2 separate regions of the Homo sapiens genome follow, and region 2 is linked to region 1. Evidence: fine-mapped expression QTL. Tissue or cell type: sun-exposed skin. Region 1 holds a variant in brackets; the other region holds the start of a gene. All regions are shown on one strand. Distances are between the middles of the regions.

Evidence for each region. PIP is the estimated chance that this variant, and not a neighbour inherited with it, causes the effect.
Region 2: ATP6V0B starts here. The variant in region 1 is fine-mapped to the expression of ATP6V0B in sun-exposed skin (GTEx, PIP above 0.99).

The regions. Positions count from the first base shown.
Region 1 is chr1:43,641,705-43,644,461 of GRCh38, forward strand. No RefSeq gene overlaps it. Among named protein-coding and RNA genes, the nearest start is that of KDM4A, 7.1 kb to the right of the region's middle. The variant C/T (reference allele first, on the strand shown) is at 1,532.
Region 2 is chr1:43,973,743-43,976,242 of GRCh38, forward strand. ATP6V0B (ATPase H+ transporting V0 subunit b) reads left to right here and starts at 1,218. Exons shown (of 8, transcript NM_004047.5): 1 at 1,218-1,365; 2 at 2,058-2,106; 3 at 2,348-2,431. The coding sequence starts at 1,299. LOC124904167 (a long non-coding RNA gene) reads right to left here and starts at 1,123. Exons shown (of 2, transcript XR_007066053.1): 1 at 701-1,123; 2 at 1-145. RefSeq lists enhancers at 371-1,204, 787-906, 957-1,006, 1,205-2,037 and silencers at 1,257-1,306, 1,707-1,756.

The DNA.
Region 1 (2,757 bases):
AGATTGAGACCATCCTGGCCAACATGGTGAAACCCCGTCTCTACTAAAAATGCAAAAATTAGCTGGGCATGGTGGCACGCGCCTGTAGTCCCAGCTACTCGGGAGGCTGAGGCAAGAGAATCATTTGAACCCAGGAGGCAGAGGTTGCATTGAGCCAAGACCACACCACTGCACTCCAGCCTGGCGACAGAGTGAGACTCCGTCTTAAAAAAAAAAAAAAAAAGAATCACTCTAGGCTGAGCGGAGTGGCTCATGTCTGTAATCCCAGCACTTTGGGAGGCCGAGGCGGGTGAATCACCTGAGGTCAGGAGTTCACTACCAGCCTGGCCAACATGATGAAACTCCGTCTCTGCTAAAAATACAAAAAATTAGCCGGGTGTGGTGGTGGGCGCCTGTAATCCTAGCTACTCGGGAGGCTGAGGCAGGAGAATCACTTGAAAAAAAAATTAGAAAACCCGTTTTTTGTTGTTTGTTTTTGTGTTTGTTTTTGTTTTTTGAGATGGAGTGTCACTCCATTCCCCAGGCTGGAATGCAGTGGCGAGATCTCAGCTCACTGCAACCTCCACCTCCCAGGCTCAAGCGATTCTCCTGCCTCAGCCTCCTGAGTAGCTGGGATTACAGGCCCATGCCACCACACCTGGCTAATTTTTGTATTTCTAGTAGATGTTGGCCAGGCTGGTCTTGAAATCCTGACCTCAAGCAATCCACCTGCCTCGGCCTCCCAAAGTGCTAGGATTACAGGCTCGAGCCACCATGCCCAGCGTAGAAAATAATTTTTTAAAAAATTAAAAAGAATCAGTCTGCTGTGTTGAGGAGACTGCAGGGGGCAAGGGCAGAGATACAGAGACATTAGCAGGCTGTGGCAATTATCCTATTCAGGCTAAGGATGGCTTGGAGCAGGGTGATGGAGTGGAGGTGAAGGGAAGTGTTGAATTCTGGACATATTTTAGGGGCAGAGCAGAACTATGTAAATGTTAATGTCAATGCACCAAAACCACAATTCATACAATAAACTGATAAATTGAACTTCATCAAAACGAAAACTCTTGTGCTTCAAAAGACACTAAAGAAAATGAAAAGGCAAGCCACAGAAGGAGAGAAAATATTTTTAAAGCCTACATCTGATAAAGGATCTGTATCCAAATACATAAATAACTTTTACAACTCAATAATAAGAAGACAAACAACCCAATTAATACATTGACAAAAGGTTTGAATAGACATTTCACCAAAGAGGATATATGAATGGTTAATAAGCACATAAAAAGATGCCCAACATCATTAGTCATTAGGGAAATGCTAATTAAAACCACAGTGAAATACTACTTGGCACCCACTAGAATGGTTATAATCAGAAAGATAGACAGTACCAAATGCTGGCAAGAATATGGAGAAATGGGACTCCTCATGTATTGTTGATGGGAATGTAAAATGGTACAGCTACTTTAGAAAATAGTTTGGCAGTTTCTTAAAAAGATAAACACAAATTTACTATACAACCTAGCAATTATTCCACTCCTTGTTATCTACC[C/T]AAGAGAAATGTAAACAGACATTTACACAAAGGCTAGCATGTAAATGTTCATAGCAGCACTATTCCTAATAGCCAAAAAGTGGAAGCAACCCAAACATCAATCAACACTACAGTGGAATACTATTCAATAATAGAAAGGAGGGAAATACTGATGCATGCTACAACATGGGTGACTCTCAAAAAAATTATGCTCAGTGAAAGAAGCCAGACACAAAAGACCACATAGTCTATGGTTCTATTTATATGAAATGTCCAGAAAAGGCAAATCTATATAGACAGAAAATAGATTAATAATTGCCTGGGGCTGGGGGTGGGAATGGAGACTGATTATAACTGGGCACGGGTAATCTTTTTGAGGTGGTAGATTTTATTGAGGTGATGGAAATGTTCCAAAACTGGATTGGGTGATAGTTGCATGCGTTTGTAAATTTATTTAAAAATCATTAAATTATATTATTAAAAAGAACATTGTTAATGATAGCATATATCTAAATGTAAACAATTTTTGTGCATATAAAGCATTTAGCACAGTGTTTGAAATATAACAGCTCAATAAATGTAGTTAACTTTGTTTTGTTTGTTTGTTTTTTGTTTTTTGTTTTTTTTTTTGAGACTGAATTTTGCTCGTCACCCAGGATGGAGTGCAACGGCACGATCTCGGCTCACTGCAACCTCCACTTCCTGGGTTCAAGCAATTCTCCTGCCTCAGCCTCCCGAGTAGCTGGGATTACAGGCGCCTGCCACCATGCCCAGCTAATTATTGCATTTTTAGTAGAGGCAGGGTTTCACCATGTTGGCCATGCTGGTCTCTAACTCCTGACCTCAGGTGATCCACTGGCCTCAGCCTCCCAAAGTGCTGAGATTACAGCAGTGAGCCACTGCACCCAGCTGTAGTTAACTTTTTTTTTTGGGGGGACGGAGTCTCGCTTCGTCACCCAGGCTGGAATGCAGTAGCGCAATCTCAGCTCACTGCAAGCTCCACCTCCCAGGTTCATGCCATTCTCCTGCATCAGCCACCTGAGTCGCTGGGACTACAGGCGCCCACCACCACGCCCGGCTAATTTTTTGTATTTTTAGTAGAGACGGGGTTTCACTGTGTTAGCCAGGATGGTCTCGATCTCCTGACCTCGTGATCCACCCACCTCGGCCTCCCAAAGTGCTGGGATTACAGGCGTGAGCCACGTCACCTGGCCTAGGTGTAGTTAACTTTTTAAGCGAATAATATT
Region 2 (2,500 bases), 330 kb after region 1:
AAATGAAAAGACTCGCCTCTTCTTCCCCACATTTGTTGAGAATCTGGTCACAGTGGCATTGTCGAGGGTATTGAAGGTGAACAAAGGAGATGTGGTCCCTGCCCTCAGGGAATGCCTAGTCTAATGGTGGAGGCAGAGCTGTAAGCTAACAAGGTAACCCAGACAAAGTGGGCATCAGTCATGTGTTCTACAAATATGTACTGAGGACACACTCTGTGCCAGGTACTGGAAATACAGCAGTGAGCGACACAAAAGCCATGGTGCTTCCACTCTTCCAGGGGAGTTGGACAAATAAAATACTTAGTATGCCAAATGGTGATCAGTAAGTACCGTGAGAAATGTAAAGCTGGGAAGCAGAGGAGCGTTTAAGTGGGGTGGAATATTAAACAGAATGGTCAGAGAAGGCCTTTTCAAGAAGGTGAGCAAAAACTGAAAGGAAGTTACAGGATGAGCCGCATGTATAGTTAGGAGAAGCAGAGAGAGCAAGTGCAAGGGCAGTGAGGTCGCGGTATGGTTGGCACGTTCAAAGAAATAGCAAGGAGGGCAGTGCAGCCAGAGGAGGGAGTTAGTGGGGGAATATTAGAAGGTGAAGTCAGCTGAGGGGCGTGGGGAGCCTAGCAGGCTATTGTGAGAACTTTGGCTTTTCTCCTGAATGAAATGGGAGCCATCAGGGCATTTCGACAGGGTAGTGACATCTTACTGAAGCTTAATAAGCATCACCAGGACATCGCGGGAGCCCAGCAAACGCGCTTCCCTGCCACTGGGTTAGGGAAGGCTTGCCGGAAGGACGATTTCGGAGGACAGCAGGTGTTAGCCAGGCAGCGGAGCGAGCGCCAACAGGCGCACTGGGGCGGAGAGACGCCGTGAGCAAGGTGAGGCAGAGGGCACGCGCGGCGCCACCCGCCACAGGCTAGGACGCACGGCTGCCAGAGAGGACGCCTTAGGGGCCCGCGAGCAGGCTCGGGAATAAAACAGGGCTGGCAGGGCGAGGTGGAGAGACTCGAGAAGGACCGGCCAGATGTCGAAGTTCCTAGAGAGGAGGGCGCCCAAGCCTCCGCCGAGACGCGTGACTACAACTACCACAATCCCCAGCGCCTGCGGTTCCAGCGTCGCCTTGCTCTAGACGGGCGGCGGCGCTGCGCGGGGAACCGGCGTGGGGTCACGTGGTACCGGCGCATCACGTGGGCGAGTTAGGTGACGCTGCGGGGCGGGCGGACAGACTGCGGGACGGACGGTGGACGCTGGGACGCGTTTGTAGCTCCGGCCCCGCCGTTCCGACCCCCGCCGCCGTCGCCGCCATGACGGGGCTAGCACTGCTCTACTCCGGGGTCTTCGTGGCCTTCTGGGCCTGCGCGCTGGCCGTGGGTGAGGCCGGGTCCTGGCGGGCGGGAGCAGCATCGCGGCCGAGCTGGCCGGGTCGGAACTCGGCGGGGAAGTGGCCTGCGGGGAATACTGGCCCCCCGCGCGCTCTGCACCCGAGGCTCTGGGGACTTGCGCCTGCGAGGGCCTCTGACTCCGACAAAGGAGACCCGGATTTCCAGCTGCTTGAGGAGGGGTGCGGGCGGGTAGGGGCCGCGAGGGCAGCACTCCCCCGTCCTGCCACTATCGCTGTCTCCCCTCGCTCCCACGTCTCACTGCTGTCCCCCCTTTCTTGCTCCTGACCGGCCCGCTCGGTCACAAGCCGGCTGCTCCGGTTCCTCTTTTCCCAGTCGCTTTGCCCTCCCCCACCCACAGCTTGTTGGGTAAACAGCGGAACGGACTGGGCCGGCGGGATCTGGCTGGAGCGCTTGCTCCCTCGGTCCCGCCTCGGATTCGGGCTTGCGGGTGGCGACCCTGCCTGCGCAGGTGCTTGGTCTGGGAGGTGGTTTTAGCGAGGGAATGGCAGAAAATGGAGGCCTAAGCAGAGGAATCTGTCTACACAGCTGTACTGTCACCTGGGGGCAGCCTGAGGACGCCCCTTCAGGGAGGTGGCCCTTCAGCTCGGCAGCTACTTTAGGTTGAAGAACTTCTCTCTACCGAGCAGCCCGTAACCCCCTTTTTCTCCCTCACTGCTGCAGGAGTCTGCTACACCATTTTTGATTTGGGCTTCCGCTTTGATGTGGCATGGTAAGGGAGGGCAGGGGGAGGATTCCCCTTGAAGCTTCTTCCCTGCAGCCTCTCTTCTTTTCTCTGGTCTGAGTCCCTCCCCCACACCACTGCCTGCCTGGGACATGGACCTTTGGGAAATACGCGGTCAGTTGTTGCCTGTAGAACTGGTGGTGGGGTTGAAGGGGGTTTGAGGGGTTAAGATTTTGTGCTCCGCTTCCCTGCTAGAGCTGAACTGCTTTCTTCTCTGCTTCCACAACAGGTTCCTGACGGAGACTTCGCCCTTCATGTGGTCCAACCTGGGCATTGGCCTAGCTATCTCCCTGTCTGTGGTTGGGGCAGCCTGGTGAGTATTGGGGTGGTGGGACTGGGGGCAGGGGCTGAGTCATGGCAGGTGGTGTCACTGGGGTCTTAG